Linked DNA regions of Homo sapiens. The protein of the gene in region 2 purifies or fractionates together with the protein of the main gene of each other region. This does not show direct contact. Each region holds a gene or a part of one and is shown on either strand. Other genes may lie near its edges.

Region 1 (9,727 bases), on a different chromosome or scaffold from region 2:
GTGGTAAAAAGGCAGCCGTGCACCCATTTGCTCACCCATCGCTCTTGGGCAAACACATACCCAGCACCCATTCCACAGCAAGCCCGGTGTTAGGCGCGCACTTCCTGGGCACCAACCACGCCTGCCCAGTACCAGGCCCACCACCTCCTCATCCCAGATCCTCGCAGACCCAGCCCAAGGTGTCCCCACGCTCACTTCTCCTTTAGCTCCGAGAACTGCTTCTCTAGGTCCAGCATCTCACTGACACACTCGCTGCGGCGTCGCTCATAGTCCTCATCATCCATCTCTGGGACAAGAGGCCAGTAAGGGCTAGCTCTGGGGAGGAGTGGTGGGTACCCGCATGTGTGCATGTGCGTCCTGCATGTGTGTGTGTGCATGCATGCCTGTGTGTAGGGCCTGTGTGTGTGTGCGCGTACATGCTTGTGTGAAGGGGCTGTGTGTGTGCGTGTGTGCTTGTGTGTAGGGGCTGTGTGTGCATATGCGTGCGTGCTTGTGTGAAGGGGCTGTGTGCACGTGTACTTGTGTGAAGGGGCTGTGTGTGTGCATACGTGCTTGTGTGTAGGGGCTGTGTGTGCGTGCTTGTGTGTAGGGGCTGTGTGTGCGTGTGTGCGCTTGTGTGCAGGGTCTGTGTATGTGCTTGTGTGTAGGCGCTGTATGTGCATGTGCGTGCATGCTTGTGTGTAGGGGCTGTGTGTGTGCATGTGTGTGTGTAGGGGCTCTGTGTGTGTGTGTGTGTGTCTGTGTGTGTAGGGGCTCACCGGAGCTCTCCTCTTCTGACTCTGTCTGGCTGCCGCTCCGCTCCTCCTCACTCTCTTCCTCCTCCCCATTCATCTCAGCAGCAGAATCACCCTCTGCTTCCATCTCTTCTGTGTCTTTGCTTGGAGGCTGGACAGGCATCTGGACTCTGGGAGAAGGAATGGAGCTATCACTTATGGCTGCCCACAGCTCAGAGGGGGAAAGAGGCAGCAGGATGCTGAACACAACTCGATCCCAGATGGGGAAAGCCAGGGAAGTAACTGGCCTGGCCACACCTTGAGCACAAACTGGGTGACAAGGGTGCAAATGGCCATCTGCACCTCTCACAGAAGGCTGGGAGCTGTGGAACTGCTCCTGCTCTTGGATGTCACTGGTGATCCTAATCCTAGCAATACTGGCCAAGGCTGTGATCCACAGAAAGGAAAGGCCCAGGGGGCACTCTCCACTGCCTTTGCAACTGGACCTAAATTTCTTTTCTTCTTATTATTTTTTGAGACAGAGTCTCGCTCTGTTGACAAGCTGGAGTGCAGTGGCACGATCTCAGCTCACTGCAACCTCCTCCTCCTGGGTTCAAGCGATTCTCCTGCCTCAGCCTCCTGAGTAGTGAGATTACAGGCGCCCGCACCACACCCAAACTGGACCTAAATTTCTAACTGGGGCTTTCAAGGTCTTTCCCAGACTGGACTTGACCTACCGGTCCAGCTCCTTCATCCCAACATATAATGGCTAGTGCTTGCACTTCCACTATCCACCCTCTGCCTCAGCTGTTCCTTCTGCCTATAATGTCCTCGGCTTCTCTTCCAGATAATGTTACAATCTCCTTGTCTTTCATTGTGCTCTGGGTCAAATCCCATCTCCTTCTGCTTCCTCTTGGACCGCAGGTCATCAGTGCTCCCCTCTCTTTTCTGTGTCTTCAGCTTCTAACTCTTAGCAACCTCCTTCCCATGAAACTTTGGATGTGCTTGGGTACTTCCTAGCATTAACAAAACACAGAAACACAAAACCTCACCCATTCCACCTAACTGCTCCATTTGCCACTTCACAGTTACACTTTTCAAGGTCTCATGAACACTGGCTGTTCCTACTTTCACCTCCCACTTGTTCGATGTCCTCAATCTCAGCTGAAACTGATCCCGTAGCATTAACCAATGACTTCCTTGTGGCTAATGCCAATATTTTTCAGTGCTTATTTTAATTGTCTGCTCGGCAACATCCAACACTGGTAAGCATTCCTTCTTTTACTGACTCATCTAACATGTATTGAACATCTAACATATGCTAGGTACCGTCAGACGCTATGGTATGCAGGCGCCCAAGTGTGAATGTCTTTGACCTCACGGAGTTTACAAGTTCCTGGGAGACAGGGGCAAAGGAGCACACTATAACCATGATAGGAGGAGAGTTAAGACCAGGGGCATAAGGGAGGGGTATATAACCAGGACCTGGAGCCCGATGCAGCAGGGAGGCTTCCAGACAAAGATGGACCAGCTGGGTGAGCTGCACTTATTGAGGGAACATTCCAGGTAGAGTCAGTAGCAAAGACCCAGAAATAAGAGAAGGAAAGCAGCTGGGGGAACATGGGTCTAAGTCTCAGTGAGAAATCTGAGCTGCAGGGATTTGGTCGTCAGCATACAGCAAGTTCTTCATGCCACAGGAGAAGGTGCAACCAGCAAGGCACAATGTGTGCGATCAGAAGACGCCCAGGGTCACCAAAGGGGCAGATGAGGAGACCCCTACAAAGGAGGAGGCAAAACCCGAAGTGGTGGAGAAAGAGTTTTAGAAGAAAGCCAAGTACTGCCAAGGAGTAATTGCACTGATAGTGCCAAGTACTGCCAAGAGATCACCTAAGAAGAAGAAAACAGTCCTCTCAGCAGATAATCTCTCAACCTCCTGCAGGCTTCTATTTTATTGTGTTCTTCCAACTTCTCTGGACACTGCTTTGTAGTCCTTTAGAACAGTGCAGACACCACTCCCTCCAGGAAGCTTTGTTTATATCTATTTGCCTGTTCTCATATCTGTCCCCGCAATCAGTCTATGAGCCTCACTAGGGCAGGGGCTGCACATGTAACTTATTTACCTAGCACAGTGCTGGTTCACTTGATGACTGGAGGATTTGCAAATACAAATTTAACAAAAAAATTTTTTGTGAGACAGACATTAGTTTTTACTTTTCGGTAGTCCCAGGTCCCTGTAATGGTAGCAAGCTTTCCTTGACACCAGTTCAAGTTGTGTATAGTAAGCCTGGCCTAGGTGAGTGTTTAGTCATATTCCTCAACAATTTCACTAATGACCTGCACCTGACTTGAAAGGCTCGGTTCTCTAAACCAGCTTCATCTTCCCGTTATCAAGCCTCAGTTCCCAACATTTGCAATGCCTCTTCACTGTTAGTATATTCACTTTGTAAGATGCAGCTTAAGTCTATCTCTTCCAGAAGCCTTTCTTTCCTCCCCCTGGTTCTGATTATGAGTGAGTTAAGTCACAACCTTCCCACCTTACCCCGGGTGCAAAAAGCGGATAACCATTCCTGCTCTGAGTGTTGAGGAGCTCACAGGTGGTAAGGGATGGAAAAGCACACTGTAAAGCGCTGTACACAGGCAATTTATCTTTTCAGAATGGCAGCTCCTCCGGGGCAGGCCCCTAGGGAAGGCAGACCCTCCCCACTCTCGCAGAGGTCAATCCAGCTTCTCCGCAGCGCCCAGGGGGCCTCCCGCTCCCTTCTAGATGCGCCGGAGCGGGCCGGAATATCACTGGCTCGCCCGCAGCCCAGCACGCGTCAGGCCGGTTAAATCTCTGCTTCGGCCTCGGAGGAGGAGGTTGTGCCGGCCCTGCTCGACTAACCGGAGAGGGCGAACCAAAAGCCATGCATGACGATACGCACCGCGGGGACTGGAGCCTCTGGCCTCACGACGGAGATTCCCTGAGAGCTGCCCGTGGTTGCCGGTACCGGCTGCTGCCGCCGGACTCCCGTAGGCGCTGCGCGGCTCCCTTTTCTTCGGGAGGCAGAGCCTATCGGTGCTTCCGTGTGCGTCATCAGGAGGCGACCGTCGGGGATGCTCACAGTTGGACAGTTTGGTCCCGAGGCATGCTGGGATACCGCGGGCCGGTCTCCATAGTAACTGGCCGACATTCGCGCAGGCCTTCGGCCTGCAGGGAAGGCCCTGATGGTTCAGTGCTTTGCAGACGGTGCCCTTCGTCCGCGGCCATCTCCCCACGGCGTGCAAGGGGAGAAGCCGGCCCCGATCCCCCCACCCCCAGCTCAGGAGAGTAACGGAGCCAGCTGTGGGTGTGAACACGCATTTATTTACACATTGTCATCGGTAGGCACATACCCAGCCCAGCCCGTTGAAGGGACAGATCTCAGGCTGTCACCCATGGAACCTGCAGACCCTTCCCTCCTCCAGAACCCTTGAAGGCGAAGCCCTGAGAGAACCAGGAATTTTAGGCTTCTGTTCAAGAGCTAAGAACTAAATTTTATGCCTTCATCTGATTTCTTTCCAAAAAGTCCATTTCATTAAGTATTCAGACTTCTTAGCTCCATCCCATTCATACTTTTTGCTCTCCTACTACCCACCCAAGATTGTTAATAATAACAATAATAATAACAACAATAATACTGCGATAATATTAATACTTCACATTTGTACGAAGCTTACAGAATGTTTTCACATATAGCATCTCATCTGAGCCTCCCAACAGTTCCGTGAGGTAGGTATTCTCACCTCCCTTTTTACAGACAGGGTAACCGAGGCTCAGAGAGGTAACGGGATTTACTCAAGGCCACACAGCTAGTTAGTGGTAAAGCTAGGAATCGATCCCAGCACCCCATATCCAAGTCCAGTGTTTCAACACCACAGCTACCTCTGTAAAGTGGAGCGACATTTCTTACCCCAGTCAGGCCTAAATGGTGGCCTGAGGAGCCAAGAGGCTGACTTCTCAGATTAGGGGAGGGAAGGGCTCAGCAGCGTCGGGGAGAGTTGGGGTACTTGGCCTTCAACTCCTGTTTGAACTGGCGATATAGGATCTTATTGTGCTGATTTTCAGCCTCCTTTTGGGGATGGAACTTCAACGCTTCTTTGAAGCCCTTATGAACCAAGAAACCTTCGTTCAGGACCTCAAAATCAAACCCCGCCACATGCAGCTCGCAGGCCTGCAGGAGGAAAGACAGGTTAGCAAAGTTTGATGACATTGACAGGCCTGAGACTGACTTCCCTAAAGCCACAGTCCAGCGTCCTCACCCCTCTGGAAGTATCCTGGATCTTCCACACCATCCACCCACCTCCTGAACTATGATCCCTCCTGCTTCATTGCCTCCTTTCCATCCAGGGCCACTCCTCATAACTCCCTGATCCCACCACCCCTCCTGCCCCATTACCCCTGCCCTCTCCCTTATGAGCACCTGGCTGATTCGGTTGAAGCCGTACTGCCGAAAGCGCTCGTCGAAGGTGGGCACCTTGCCTCCTGCCACGTAGAATGGCTCCCAGGGGTCCTGCCAAGGTACCACGTAGGCGGGCCGCAGCAAGCTCTCTTCCGGCAGGTTGACCCAGCGGGAATAGTTGGTGGGTGCCTGGCAGGGGGTGCACAACCCATAATAGAAGGGCCGCACCTCGCCAACCTGGTAGAGCTGCACCAGCTCGTTTTTGTTCATGGGCATGCGGCGGGCTCTTCGGATTTCGAAGGCAGGCACCACCAGCGCGGTGCCTCCCCACTGGTTGCTCTGATCCAGCATTTCCCGCAGGCCTCTCCACAGCCCCTCGCTGGGCACCATGTCCACATCGATCACCAGGGCATAGTTGGCCCCCTCACGAGCCAGATTCCTCAGCAGGTTATTGGGGTAGGAGACATTGGTGCCCAGCGCATAATTAATCCCGGGCTGGGCCACCCTGGCTAGCTTGTCAAAGACCTCCTGGCAGGACCGCAGCAGGGCAAACTCCCCCGGCTCCCGGGGGTCGGGCACGGCTGCCTCGTAACGCGAGGGGCACACGAGGTGCATGGCGACCCTGGCGCGCATGTCGGGGCAGTGGCTGCTCAGCGCGTAGGCCAGCACCGTGGCCAGCTGCGCCTCCTCCTTGGTGGCCGCGAACACCGACACGGACAGCGGGCCCTCCCAGCGCTCCAGCAGACCCGACAGGTGCAGCAGGTTGTCCACGCTGGCGTGCGTGGCCAGGATCACATCGTTGGGGTCCATGGTGGTCTTCAGCAGGCCCCTGTAGACGCGGTAATCGCCGCTAGCGTCCAGGACGCCTCCAGAGGCCAGCGCGGTGCGGAGCTGCGCCTTGACCTGGTCCACGGACCGTGGGGACGGGGGAAAGAACTCAAAATATTGGTCTTGCTCCTCCTGCCCGTGCAGTCCGGACAGCAGCGACAGGTAGAGCAGCTGCAGCATCGCCACCAGCATGAGCGCGGCCAGCAGCAGCTGGTAGAAGGCGCACCGGATGGCGTAGGACATCTGCATGGCTCTCGGGGCTCGGGGCGCGCAGCAACGACCACCCGGCCACAGACTACGCCAGCGGCCGCAAGCCCGGATTTACCGCAGCCTGCCGAGCGCAGCCGAGGCGAGCCGAGGCCAGCCGAGCCCCGAGCGCCGCCCCGCCCGCCGCCCGCCGCCCGCCGCCCGCCGCCCGCCACCGCCCCCAGCCCCCGGCGCGCCGGCTCGCCCCCTACGAGGGAGGAGGAGCCACGGCCCCGCCGCTCGGCCGCGCGCCGTGCAGACGCCCGCCCGCCCGGGCCCCGCCGGCTTCCCGGGACGCACTCCTCTCCCTCCCCGCCGGCGCGCGCACCCTGGACCGGGCGCGCCCTGAACGCGCGGCGCGCTCGGCCGGACTCGGAGGGAAACCGCGGCAGAGCTCGGCTGCAGCGTGGTAAAGGATGGCGCGGGCTCAGCAGAAAGGAAATCAAAACGCTCCCTTCCTTCCGCGGCTTCTTCTTTCCCTGTGTCCGAAGAGGTCTGCGTTGCGACTTACGTGGTAGTGCTTGGAAGGTGCGGAGTAGATGAGAGATAAGTGAATGTGGACAAACCTGTCACGTAGGACGAGGTGGCCGAGTGGTTAAGGCGATGGACTGCTAATCCATTGTGCTTTGCACGCGTGGGTTCGAATCCCATCCTCGTCGGCCCTGTTTTATAGAGGTTGGGGGGGAAGCATCTACATTTTCACATCCTGCCTATTTGGAGCAGCAAGCTGGAGGTGCGAGGGGTGAGGCATCTAAATTTTCACATCCTGCCTGTGGAGCAGCAAGCTGAAGAAAACTGAACTGGGGGTGAGAGTGGAATTCGATCCCAAGTCTCTCTGGTCTTTATCCACCACGCATCTCCTGCCTGCTCCTACTTCAGGTGTCTGTAGCTCTGGGCAGAGGCCAAAGGTGTTTTCTTTCCTTCTAGAAAGAGGGCCCAGGGGTTGGTGGCACGGAAAAGACTAGAACCGGGATTCTGGCCAGTGTGAAGTTGGGGGCCAACGTATGATCTGCAGGAATCAGGGAAGCCCCCCATTGGAGGCATCGCCCTCCCCGTCCGAAGTAGTGGTACTTGTCCTACTCTCCAGCACTTCTCCTAGGGCGGAGACCTTGTGTCCACATGCCCTGCTCCCCAACACACACAATCTCTTTTTTTTTTTTTTTTTTTTTTTTTGAGGCGGATTCTCGCTCTGTCGCCCAGGCTGGAGCGCAGTGGCGCGATCTCGGCTCACTGCAACCTCTGCCTTCCAGGTTCAAGCGATTCTCCTGCCTCAGCCCCGAGTAGCTGGGACTACTAGCGCATGCAGCACGCCCGGCTAATTTTTTGTATTTTTAGCAGAGACGGAGTTTCACCGTGTTAGCCAGGATGGTCTCGGATCTCCTGACCTCCTGATCCGCCCACCTCGGCCTCCCAAAGTGCTGGGATTACAGGTGTGAGCCACCGCGCCCGGCCGCACACAAACTCTTAAGCAGAAGGCTTTGAACATTCCAATATCAGGCCACTATACTCTTAATAAGTATTTGTGGATTAATTCATCTGTGGACTCTTTAGAACAGGAGAGGCCGTGGGAAGGGCAGACACTGCCACTGCTAAATCAATTACCGTATATTACTCAACTTTTTAGGCTGAGCCAGGGAGGCCCCTATAGGGCAGAGTGCTCTGAATCTTGGGATGTCAGGACAGACTGGGCAGGGCTTCAAATAAGGATAAAGTGTTTGTCCCACTATTCCACAGGCAGTAGGGTGCCAAGGTTGTTGAGTTGAAGAGTGATCAGAAAACCTTTATTTTGCAGCCCAGAGCAAAAACACACACTGAGTACCTGGTCTCTGCCAGGAACTGTGTTAGGCACGAGGGATGGGCCTTGGAGGAGACACAGGTATTGTCCTTGAGAGTTTCCACTGGTGACCTTGGCTGTAAAGAGGAGAAAAGTAAGTGCAGATCCTTTCAGCACAGGCCTTATAGACTGGAGGCTCAGAAGTCAGACATGCTGCCATGTGGATTTTCTTTGACCTCCTCAGTGTTTTATTTTTTATTTATTATTATTATTATTATTTGAGACAGAATTTTGTTCTTCTTGCTCAGGCTGGAGTGCAATGACGCGATCTTGGCTCACTGCAACCTTGCCTCCTAGGTTCAAGTGATTCTCCTGCCTCAGCCTCCTGAGTAGCTGGGATTACAGGAGTGCACCACCATGCCTGGCTAATTTTTTGTATTATTTTTTAGTAGAGATGGGGTTTCATCATGTTAGCCAGGCTGGTCTCGAACTCCTAACTTCAGGTGATCCACTCACCTTGGCCTCCCAAAGTGTTGGGATTACAGGTGTGAGCCACTGCGCCCAGCCCTATTATTATTATTATTATTTTGAGACAGAGTTTCGCTCTTGTTGCCCAGGCTGGAGTGCAATGGCTCAATCTCGGCTCACTGCAACCTCTGCCTCCTGGGTTCAAGTGATTCTCCTGCCTCAGCCTCCGGAGTAGCTGGGATTACAGGCATGTACCACCATGCCCAGCTAATTTTGTATTTTTAGTAGACTAGGGTTTCTCCATGTTAGTCAGGCTGGTCTCGAACTCCCGACCTCAGGTGATCTGCCCACCTCGGCCTCCCAAAGTGCTGGGATTACAGGAGTGAGCTACCAAGCTCAGCCAGTGTTTGTATTTTCAGTGGACAAGTTTTTTACTTCCTGGGTTAATTTTTTCCTAGGTATTTTATTCTTTTGTATCCTATTGTAAATGGAGTTGTTTTCTTAATTTCCTTTTCACGTTGTTCATTGTTAGTGTATAGAAATATAACTGAATTTTTGTTGTTGTTGTTGTTGTTTTGAGATGGAGTTTCGCCCTTTCACCCAGGCTCGAGTGAAGTGGCGCGATCTTGGCTGACTGCAACGTCTGCCCCCCGGGTTCAAGCAATTCTCCAGCTTCAACCTCCCGAGTAGCTGGGACTACAGGTGCATGCCACCACACCCGGCTAATTTTTGTATTTTTAGTAGAGACGGGGTTTTGCCATGTTGGCTAGGCTGGTTTCAAACTCCTGACCTCAGGTGATCCACCTGCCTCAGCGTCACAAAGTGGTAGGATTACAGGCATGAGCCACTGTGCCCAACCAGAATTTTGTGTGTTAACTTTTTTTTTTTTTTTTTGAGGCAGAGTCTCACTCTGTCTCCCAGGCTGGAGTGCAGTGGAGTGATCTCACCTCATTGCAACCTCCGCCTCTTAGGTTCAAGTGATTCTCCTGCCTCAGCCTCTCTAGTAGCTGGGACTACAGGCGTGCGCCACCACACCCAGTTAATTTTTATATTTTTAGTAGAGACAGGGTTTCACCATGTTGGCCAAGCTGGTCTTGAACTCTTGACCTCGAGTGATCCACCCACCTCAGCCTCCCAAAGTGCTTGGATTACGGGCACGAGCCACTGAGCCAGGCTATTGTGTGTTAATCTTGAATTCTGCAACTTTGCTGACTTTATTAGCTCTAAAAGTTTGTGTATGTGTGTACGTGTCTGTGTGTGTGTGTGTGTGTGTCTCTGTG
Region 2 (2,522 bases):
TTACCTTAGATGTTTGCACCTAACTGTATATGAGCAAATGATGCTGGATTAATGTTCATCATAATCAGTATGGAAATGGCATTTTGACTAGGAAAATGTCCTCATTCTTAAGGGATGCAGGCTGAAGTCTTCAGCCATTTCATTGTATAGGCTCATGGATAAAGCATCAGTTATGCTAGTATCACTTGGTGAATCTAGGTAAAGGGTATACAGGTATCCATTGTACTATATTCTGTCACCTATTCTGGAGGTTTGGAAATTTGCAAAATAAGTATAAATAGATTACTGAGCCTGTACCACCTTCTAAAACCAGACAGCACCCACCCCCAGTTGAAATACTGATAGCTCTAAAAACTTAGTAAAACCTTTGTTAGGATTAACAGGAGAGTATATGAAATCAAAGCTTTTTTTGTTCTTGTAACAGTTTATTCATGGAGGACACACTGCTAAGATTTCAGATTTTAGCTGGAACCCCAATGAGCCTTGGGTCATTTGCTCAGTGTCTGAGGATAACATCATGCAGATATGGCAAATGGTGAGTTAAAATGTTTTTCTTGAATGACTGTCTTGTAAAGGAGAGATTTACTACTTACATAATGTAATAAAGTTATTTCGAATATGTAGGTGCATATTATGCCAAACATTTACAGAAACCGTTTAAAAGAACTTTTTCCATTTCAACAATACAATCTTTAGTCCCATATGGTGCTTCGTCCACTGTTTGCTATTTGTAGCACCTGTCAGGTCAGGAGAAATCTCTGCATCTGCACTGATTTTCATTGTTGTTGTGCTCTTCATACACTGGAGTCTTGGCGTCGCTACTCTGTCTCCAGTGTCTGTTCTGTGTGGTAGGCATGAGGGATACAGGAAGGAGAGGTCAAGGCATTCAAATGACAGCAAGTTCTCTGAGGATGAGCACTAAGTAGCTGACATTTCTAAGTTGTTGTTAACCGAGACTTCCATAACATCTGGGCTACCACTTCCTCTAAACGATGCTTGAAGTGCCTTTGGAAAACATCTCTTATGAACAGTGATTGAAATAAGTAGTGCATCGATGGGTGGCTAAGTATACATACGGAATTACACACTGGCAAAGAATTTTTCAAAATACTGGCTAGCCTACCATTTCCTTATTGAAGTTTTTAAGAGAGAAATGTAAAAATGAAACTATTAAGTTCTAAATAGATTAAATTGTTTTTACATGACCATGTGAAAACCATAGGGAGTTTTTACCTGTGAATTTATTTGGTTATCTCCAGGCTGAAAATATTTACAATGATGAAGAGTCAGATGTCACGACATCCGAACTGGAGGGACAAGGATCTTAAACCCAAAGTACGAGAAATGTTTCTGTTGAATGTAATGCTACATGAATGCTTGATTTATCAAGCGCCAAAAAGGCATTGTATAGTAGGAAATGTAAGTGGGGTGGCTTATGGCTTCTTTATCCTCTGATTCTAGCACTTTCAAGTGAGCTGTTGCGTACTGTATCATATTGTAGCTATTAGGGAAGAGAAGAATGTTGCTTAAGAAAGAACATCACCATTGATTTTAAATACAAGTAGCAGGGTATTGCCTTTGATTCAACTGTTTTAAGTCCTCATTTTCTCAAACTAAGTGCTTGCTGTTCCCAAATATGCAAGAATAACTTTTACACTTTTTCCTTCCAACACTTCTTGATTGGCTTTGCAGAAATAAAGTTTTAAAATAAAACTTGTGTTTTTTTAAAAGCTTAGTGGGGGGGGGCGGGGGAGTCTACTTTTTGAGTAGAAATGGGTAAAATGGTACCTTTGGACTCCTACAGTTAAGGTCACATGGATAATGAAAGAATACACAGAAGCTGTTAAGTTTATCATACATATTTACTTAATCTATACAGAATCAAGTAGATAAAATCAGATTCACATTAGTGAAAAATCTCTACAAAATGTCTTTGAAAAGCAAAACGAGACTGCCTCTTAACAATTCGTATCCTCATGAAAGACGTGGGCTGTAAAAATAAAGCAGTGTGTTTAGCACAAACTAGAAGATATCTGCATCATTTTTTTCACAGTTATTTCCATCTACAGTCTGAAAGAGGTAGATTTTTCTGCAACACCTGAGAATTGAATTGTGATAACCAGGTGTAATAAAGGCAGTTGCATACATAACTGAAAAATACTGGTCTCAAGACCAAGAAATGTACTCCTAACAAGTCTGAGGATGAAATGGTCCATATTACCCAAGACCCAAGTTTTCTCTACACCTTGGAGTCCACCGCCAATATAAATAATACACATCACGATTCCATGATGGTGCAACAATTGCAATTTAAGTGAATTCAACATTTAAACCTTTTCTGGGCCAGCCTAGTAGCATTACAGTGTTCTAGAATATGGTAGATACGGGGTGCGCTACAAAGCCACAACACTGGGCTGGTGAGGTGATCACTGTAGGAAGATGTCCTTCTCAGGGGGTCCCATTTGTTTTTATTCACAGGGTAATGGGAGGAAGGGTTCTGAAAGGACAACAAATGCATCCCA
Region 3 (8,894 bases), on a different chromosome or scaffold from region 2:
GGTGGCTCATGCCTATAATCCCAGCACTTTGGGAGGCTGAGGTGGGCGGATCACTTGAGGTCAGGAGTTTGAGACCAGCCTGGCCAACATAGCAAAACCCCATCTCTACTAAAATACAAAAATTAGCCGGGCGTGGTGGCCTGCGCCTATCCCAGCTCCTCAGGAGGCTGAGGCAGGAGAAATGCTTGAATCCAGGAGGCGGAGCTTGCAGTGAGCTGAGATCACGCCACTGCACTCTAGCCTGGGCAACCAAGTGAGACTATGTCTCAAAAAAAAAAGAAAAGAAAAGAAAAAACCTTTTCTTTCCACAGTTATTTTAAGTAGAATGTCATATTCCTTTCTTAGGGTACAAAATGCCCATCATCTGTCCTTCCTAGATACTATCTCAAACCACTTAACAAATTAACTTCATGTCTAGGATGTCTAGGTACTAATCTTTTGATCTTTTTTAAGGACTATTGTACCTAAATATGATACTGGGGAATGTTGCAAAATAGCTTTTCATATAGATTTGAGTTAGTAATATGCAACGTAATATATTTTTGCTTGGAGCTTAGTTTCCCCTCCCCCTCAAATTCTTGGCACAAATGTTATGATTTGTTTTATTTCAGAAATTTCTACAGGGAGGTATTCAGAGGTACATGATTAAAGATTTTTATTGTTATTTTTGGTAAGATTTTTATTGTAAAATTACATTGGTAATATAAAAACCTGTATAATATAATAATATTTCCTCTTACAGACTCTTGTTCATCTGATAGTGAAACAGAAGATGCTTTAGAAAAGAATTTAATAAATGAAGAACTTTCTCTTAAAGATGAACTAGAAAAAAATGAAAATTTGAATGATGATAAGCTAGATGAAGAAAATCCAAAGATTTCTGCACATATATTAAAAGAAAATGATAGGACTCAAATGCAGCCTTTAGAAACCCTGAAGTTAGAAGTTGGAGAGAATGAACAAATAGTACAGATTTTTGGGAACAAAATGGAAAAAACAGAAGAAGTTAAGAAAGAAGCCGAAAAATCTCCAAAAGGAAAGGGAAGACGAAGCAAGACAAAAGATCTTTCTTTAGAAATTATAAAGATTTCATCATTTGGCCAGAATGAAGCAGGAAGTGAACCTCATATAGAAGCTCATAGTCTTGAATTGTCTTCATTAGACAATAAAAACTTTTCTTCTGCTACAGAAGATGAAATTGACCAATGTGTGAAAGAAAAGAAGTTGAAACGGAAAATACTAGGACAATCATCGCCAGAGAAAAAAATAAGAATTGAGAATGGAATGGAAATGACAAATACTGTATCTCAAGAAAGGACCAGTGATTGTATTGGATCTGAGGGAATGAAAAACTTAAATTTTGAACAGCACTTTGAAAGAGAAAATGAAGGAATGCCATCATTGATAGCAGAGTCAAACCAATGCATCCAACAACTGACTAGTGAAAGATTTGATAGTCCAGCTGAAGAAACTGTAAATATTCCACTAAAAGAAGATGAGGATGCAATGCCTCTGATCGGGCCTGAAACCTTGGTTTGCCATGAAGTAGATTTGGATGATTTGGATGAAAAGGATAAGACCAGCATTGAGGATGTAGCAGTTGAAAGCTCTGAGTCTAACTCTCTTGTTTCTATTCCACCTGCCCTACCTCCTGTAGTCCAACATAACTTTTCAGTAGCTTCACCACTTACTCTTAGTCAAGATGAGTCTCGAAGCGTAAAAAGTGAGAGTGATATAACGATTGAAGTTGATAGTATTGCTGAAGAATCTCAAGAAGGTCTCTGTGAGAGGGAATCGGCAAATGGATTTGAAACTAATGTTGCCTCTGGTACCTGTAGTATAATTGTACAAGAGAGAGAGAGCAGAGAGAAGGGTAAGGACTTTCTAGGGAAAAGTAAGTGTTTATATGAAACCAAAAATCAAAACTGTTGAGTTTCAGGTACTGTTGATCTGTAAAGTACTTTCTTTTTCTTTTCTCTCTTCTTTTCTTATTAAAAAGAAAGAAATGTCAGTGTAGTCTGTTGAATAATATACTTGCTCTTTTTTTTTTTTTTTTTTTTTTCAACATTCTCTCTTTCCCCTTATTTCAGGTCAGAAGAGGCCAAGTGATGGAAATAGTGGATTAATGGCAAAAAAGCAAAAGCGTACCCCAAAGCGAACAAGTGCTGCAGCCAAAAATGAAAAGAATGGAACAGGTTGGTGTCTTTCAATGCTAGCTTTTGTATAGTGTTAGTATTTTTAGCAGTTTGTTGGCTTGTTTTAAACATAAATGGAGCAATACTATATTGTTTTATAACTGCATTTTCATTTAACAGTATTATACTAGATATTTTGCCATTTTTATTCTTAGGAACTCTAGCTCATTCTTTTTAACAACTTTAGGAAAGTATTCAATAGTTTATCATTTTTAACCATTTCCCCGTTGGTGAGCATTTAGGTTTTTTTGTTTTTTTGTTGTTTTTATATTGTTATAAACTTTGTGCATTTGTGCACTTATTTCTGTAGGATACCAAGAAATGTAATTGTTAGGTCTGTTGCATTTTGATATTTAAGAATTTTATTTATAATCTGAGTCAATCTTTTTTATTATTTATAGGACAAAGCAGTGATAGTGAAGATCTTCCTGTCCTAGACAATTCAAGTAAATGTACCCCAGTAAAGCATCTTAATGTATCTAAGCCACAGAAACTTGCACGATCTCCTGCAAGAATATCCCCGCACATCAAAGATGGAGAGAAAGATAAACACAGAGAAAAACATCCGAATTCATCCCCTAGGACATATAAATGGAGCTTTCAGCTCAGTAAGAAGCTTATAGAAAACTTGATAGATGAATACTGTAAAGTGGAATAGATCTTAAAATATCAACTTGGATTAATGTTAATAAAATAAGGAATAATGATTAACTATTTAGATATTCCAAATATTGCCTTAGCAAGAATCACCACATGTTGTCTTAAGTATAAATCTGTGTCTTTTCATAAAACTGACTTGATAAATATTGACTTACAGGAAGGTCTCCATTAAGAAGCCATGTATGATTTATATAAATCAGTGAAATTGAAGTGCCCTTTGTAGCACTAACAATTAGAAATAGCCAGTAGTTATTTCTATTATGTAACTAGTAGTAGTGAAGAAAATGTCAATACAGGGAAACTATTCTGATAACTATAATTATAGATAGGTCAGGGTTAGTTTGTGTTGATGTTTTCTTATGTTTTTCTGATCATTTAAGTAATAAATGTTTAGTATAGAAAATTTGGGATCTAAAAATAATTCTTAATCATGAATTTAATTCACGACTTCCTTGTTTTCAGTCTTATTCAGCTTACTGTAGGAGATTTTAATAAACTAAAGCTTTTGTTGATTTATGAGTTAGACGTTTGATAGAATTGTCATCATTTTTCTCACAGAATTATTTTAAAATCCAAATTAACTTCTTTCCCCCCTTTTAGATGAATTAGATAATATGAACAGTACAGAGAGAATCTCATTTCTCCAAGAAAAACTACAGGAAATCAGAAAATATTATATGTCTTTGAAGTCTGAAGTTGCAACCATAGACAGGAGGAGAAAAAGATTAAAAAAGAAAGACAGGGAAGGTAATTTTATTATGATTTTTCTCCCCTTATATTTCAAAACTATATCCTATCATTTTAGAAGATTTAAATTTGATACTCTTTGAATATAGTACACATTCATTAATTGCTGTTTTTAAATTCCTAGTGTTTTCTATTGTTGAAATGAGTAGGTCAGCAACTGAGTTAATCAGAATGACACCCTTAAAAGGGAGTATGAACTGTTTTCCAAAATGGGTGATTGTACTAAATGTGATGGATTCTCAGGTAGAGCATAGTCCTTCTGAAATTCACTCTTTGCTCAAACATTTATTGGCATCTATTAACAGGCACTGTATTTGTTATGGGGTTCACCAAAATGAATGAGACATAAGGCTTATTCTCAAGGAGATTATCTTGTTGGGATTATAAATCATTTCCTAAGCAACTAAAATATAAGATAGTGCAGCTCAGCAACTTTAAAGAGCACATGCCATGTGCCAGGCACTCTGCCAGGTGGCGGAAGTACAGAAATGAGTTAGATACAGACTTTCTTCTCAAAGATCTTAACATCTAGTGGAACAGTGTGTACCCTGAGAATGATATTAACGAGTACAAGAGTTAGTGGAAGGAGAGGTTACTTTGGAGTAGTCAGAGAGAGGGAGTAGTGTCTGAGCTAGCCCTTCGGGGGTTGTAGGATTGACTTCCAGTTAAACATGAACATGTCCATCTACAGTCCATCCCTAAGCCCTGCTAAAATAACAGTAAAGGAAATTAAAAGCCCTAAACTCAAAAGGACAAGAGAATGACCACAACAGACAAGAAATGTCAACAGTATATCTTTTGGAAGCTGCATAACAGATGGACTACTGTAACTGTCCCAGCAGATGAGATAATGCTGAAACTAAGCTTGCTTGTCCTTGTAGTGGGACAAAACAACAAGAAGCAAGCCAATTAATACCATGTAACCCCAGAAAAGCTTTCAGAAGGGATATGGGACGATGCTGAAAAATGGGATTGGTTGAAAATGGAAAGAGAAATTGGATCTCTTCTTCCCATCTGTGAAGCAAGTCTACCTCACCCCCAACTCAAGCAGAAAATAGATTAACTTAAAAGAGAATGAGGAAATCAGTAGGCCTGTAGACTTGGGGGCACCAGCCACAGCTGAGGGTAATGATTAAGTGCTAAACCAAAATAATGGATGGAGTGAAAGTTTGCATACTGAATAGTTAGATTGCTGTCCCTCTTCTAACTCAAGGCCTAATCCTCTTGGCTTCCTGAAAGCTGGCAGCCAAGCTTATGCTTATTCCTGGGAGGAGATTGGAAGATTCTTCTAAAGAAAATGACCAGCCCAAGAAAAATTACCTACTATTTGGATGTTCCTGAAACAAAAATCAAGATCCTTGCCAATCACTACATGTGCATTTTCTGTATTTAAAAGCCCTGATGCTCATATACAGCTTTCAGTCAGCTTTTTAATGTTAAATATGGAAGCCACATGACCAGACATTTGAGGAAAGCCCCTACATAAAGGCAGAAGCCAAAGTAGAAAAAGGAGAATAAAAAGGAACTGGAAGAAAAAAAACAGATAATGTACCATATTAAAAAAAAAATAGGACAAAACTATTCTTAATAGTTAATCCAAGTTGAGTATCCTTTATTTGAAATGCTTGGGTCTAGAAGTGTTTGGGTTTTTTATTTTTTTCAGATTTTGGAATATTTGTACATAATGAAATATCTTGGTGATGGGACCCAAGTCTAAACACAAAATTCATTTATGTTTCATAGACACTTTATACACATAGCCTGAAGGTAATTTTATATAAATAATTTTGTGCATGAAACAAAGTTTGTGGTAAGTGCTTATGTGTGGAATTTTCCACTTGTGGCACCACGTTGGTGCTCAAAAGTTTCAGATTTTGGATTTTTGGATTAGGGATGTTCAATTTGTATCCAGAGATAAAGGGAAAGAGATTGCCACCTTGAAACAAAAGCATAATAACTATTTTAAAAATTCAGAGAACAAGAAGGATATCTTTAAAATATGATAGCAGGAATTTAAAAAAAATAATAAGGCAGTGAAGCTGAAGAAATTCCACTAGAGGGTCAAAAAGACAATAGGAGAGAAGAAATAAGAGAAATATGGAATCTGGCGAGGAGATCCAACTTCTGAATCATAGGATTTCTAGAAGGAGAGTTGAATAAACAAGAGGAAGTTGTCATCAAAGATATTTTTAAAATTCTAGAACTGAAGGATATGAGTTAGAAAAGGACTCACTGTGCCCTCTATAAATAATGGGGGTGAAAATCACCAAAGCATATGAAATTTCAGAATCCTGTGGATAAAGAGTAGATTCTAGGCCTGGCACAGCGGCTCACGCCTGTAATCCCAGCATTTTGGGAGGCAGAGGCAGGCAGATCACTGGAGGCCAGGAGTTTAAGACCAACCTGGCCAACATGACAAAACCCTGTCTCTACTAAAACTACAAAAGTCAGCTGCGCATGGTGGCAGATGCCTGTAATCCCAGCCACTCAGGAGGCTGAGGCTTGAGGATCACTTGAACCCGGAAGTGAGCACCGAGATCGCGCCAGTGCACTCCAGCCTGGGTGACAGAGTGAGAGTCTGTCTCAAAAAAAAAAAAAAAAAAGTAGATTCTAAAAATTTACCATATAAAGATACATATATAAAAAGAAATGGATCTCAGAACAGCATCAAGAGTCTTACATCCGATTTCTCAATGGTAGTACTAGAAACTAGAAGCCAAGCTAAGAAGACATGGGACTGGCAAACAAGGAATCCTACATAGGAAAATAGTGAAGGAATATCTGAAGGTGATGGTGAATGGAAGCTCTAGGATGACCACTGCATAGCAGACCTAGAAAGCAACTATTCCAGGAGTAGGATGGAACAGGAGGGGAAAGCTCCAGAAGGGATGTCTCTTAAAAACCAAATAAAAGGTAAATTACCTGATAGGGTTGATCATGTTGAGAGAAGTTTTCTGCCTCTAGTAGAGATTTAGTGGATGACTTTGTGGTAGAGTGACGTGTCATGTGTGGCCTTGACCATTGTGCTCCAAGTCCAGCAGTTTTTAATTCCTAGAAATAGGAACAGGATGGAGCAAATGGAAAGAGATCAGACTTCTCATGTTCATCCTTTTCTTTTAAAAACTGTAAATAGCAAGAAGTCTTTACAGAACTTTTGAATATCAAAAGAAGAAAAGAACAAATTAGCAAATTAAAATTTCTTCAAAGAACCCACCACTTGCTCTGGGGTCAGTTTCCTAAAGGTGACATACATTTCAGACAATTAAAAAGATTTTCTTTTTGTTGAGACAGAGTTTCACTCTTGTTGCCCAGGCTGGAGTGCAATGGCACAGTCTTGGCTCACTGCAGCCTCCGCCTCCCGGGTTCAAGCCATTTTCCTGCCTCAGCCTCCCGGGTAGCTGGGATTACAGGTGCCCGCCACCATGCCTGGCTAATTTTTGTATTTTTAGTAGAGATAGGGTTTCACCATGTTGACCAGGCTGGTCTCCAACTCCTGATCCCAAGTAATCTGCCCACCTCGTCCTCCCAAAGTGCTGGAATTACAGGCATGAGCCACAGCGCCCAGCCAAAAAGATTTTTTTATTACCGTCTTTTTTGTTGTTGGGGGGTACAGGCTCTGGCACCCAGACTGGAGTGCAGTGGCATGATCACGGCTTACTGCAGCCTCAGACTCTTGGGCTCAAGCGACTCCCACCTCAGCCTCCCGAGTAGCTGGTACCACAGTGCCTGCCACCACACCCAGCTAATTTTTTAGTTTTTTTTGTAGAGGCATATTCTCACTATGTGGCTCAGGCTGGTCTGGAACCCCTGTTCTAAAGCAATCCTTTTGCTTTGGCCTCCCAAAGTGCTGAGATTATAGGCATGAGCCAACATGCCCAGCTTATTATAGTCTTTTCCCCATTTTTATTTGCTTATGTTTTTATAATGAGTTATTAAATTGAGATTTGAGTGATTTGTAGCATACATGTAAGAATTTGTTGCCTGGGCATGGGGCTCACGCTTATAATTCCAGCACTTTGGGAGGCTGGAGCAGGAAGATCACTTGAGTCCAGGTGTTTGAGACCAGCCTGGGCAACGTAGTGAAATCCCATCTCTACAAAAAATTTAAAAATTAGCTGGGTACAGTGGCATGTCTTAGCTACTTGGAAGGCTGAGGCAGGAGGGTCGCTTGAGCCCCAGAGGTTGTCATGATACTTGAATAAACAAAAATTAAAATTTTAAATAAAATAGGAACAATCAGGCAAAGAAAGGCAGAAGACAAGAGTATTGCAAGGAAAGAGAAGATAAAAGCAAAGAACTTAAAAAGTGGCAAAACACCTAATGCTCAGAGTACCGATCCCTAATCTGTGTTATGTCCTCCTGGAGAAAATTATGTTAAAACCATTTGAGGACTTTTTGCTTATCACACATCATTACTTTGATCCTGATCTCCATGATTCTGATACCTGTCAGAGGAAATCCTCTGAGTTAAATTAATTCTCTTACGGTCCTATGACCCATAGATAAAGCAGAAATTCCATATGGTTCCATGTTTATCTCAGGTTGACCTTGTTTCTGATTGAGCCAAGTTCCTTCATGGGATCTCCCAACTAGAGGTTTAAGAGTTTTTGTCTCTTTAATCTTTACATTTTATGATGTATTTTTAAGTGTTGAGTAGTGCTTAACTGACCAAAGACTAACTCCACTTAATTGAGCCAAACAAAATTTTTGCTGACAATTTGTTACTCCTTCATGTGACATATAAGAGGCCTGTGATTAAGGTGAATAATGTTAAGAATTTTATTTCTAATTTGCTGTTAGCTGGGTATCTTTGTGTAACAGTTTTTGGATCTAACATAGTTGTTTTGATTCCACAGTGTCTCATGCGGGAGCCTCCATGTCATCTGCTTCATCAGACACTGGAATGAGTCCCTCATCATCATCTCCCCCACAAAATGTACTTGCTGTAGAATGCAGGTGATAAACATTTTCTCTACCTTCCCAGCAGTTTGCTGCCATGGACATAAATCCCCAAACCCTGAATTACAACCACAGAAAGCACTCAACTGGTTTGACATTGCTAAGTATATCCTGTATACTTTTCCAGGCTGGATTGTATCTATTCCCCTCTCTCTTCTTTTTTCTTGTTGCAAAAAATAAGCTGATTAATAAGTGAAGGTTAAGCAGCCTGCCATATTTGTCATAATTTTTCCTCTTTACTTTTGTTTTTCGTTTGTTGTGATATAGAACAAAGGGCACTTAGCAAATTTGAATTTGTATAATAAAGCTTTCAGGTGTTACAGAAATCGTAGA

Evidence for each region. Proteins that work in one complex are often made in the same cells at the same time.
Region 1: the proteins of RBBP7 (region 2) and BRMS1 purify together in Homo sapiens (affinity purification with mass spectrometry; 5 studies listed by BioGRID and IntAct, with this or other methods). This does not show direct contact.
Region 3: the proteins of RBBP7 (region 2) and ARID4A purify together in Homo sapiens (affinity purification with mass spectrometry; 6 studies listed by BioGRID and IntAct, with this or other methods). This does not show direct contact.

The regions. Positions count from the first base shown.
Region 1 is NC_000011.10:66,341,338-66,351,064, forward strand, and holds the start of BRMS1 (breast cancer metastasis-suppressor 1), read right to left. Parts: upstream 3,768-9,727; 5' UTR 3,635-3,767; intron 905-3,634; 5' UTR 898-904; coding exon 759-897; intron 287-758; coding exon 196-286; intron 1-195. Other genes in the region: B4GAT1 (beta-1,4-glucuronyltransferase 1), read right to left, coding at 4,712-4,903, 5,153-6,208. UniProt on the Homo sapiens protein: Transcriptional repressor. Down-regulates transcription activation by NF-kappa-B by promoting the deacetylation of RELA at 'Lys-310'. Promotes HDAC1 binding to promoter regions.
Region 2 is NC_000023.11:16,843,841-16,846,362, reverse strand, and holds the end of RBBP7 (histone-binding protein RBBP7), read left to right. Parts: intron 1-424; coding exon 425-535; intron 536-1,259; coding exon 1,260-1,328; 3' UTR 1,329-2,022; downstream 2,023-2,522. UniProt on the Homo sapiens protein: Core histone-binding subunit that may target chromatin remodeling factors, histone acetyltransferases and histone deacetylases to their histone substrates in a manner that is regulated by nucleosomal DNA.
Region 3 is NC_000014.9:58,363,428-58,372,321, forward strand, and holds part of ARID4A (AT-rich interactive domain-containing protein 4A), read left to right. Parts: intron 1-742; coding exon 743-1,873; intron 1,874-2,090; coding exon 2,091-2,195; intron 2,196-2,596; coding exon 2,597-2,803; intron 2,804-3,455; coding exon 3,456-3,602; intron 3,603-6,595; exon of another isoform or gene 6,596-6,653; intron 6,654-8,458; coding exon 8,459-8,562; 3' UTR 8,563-8,894.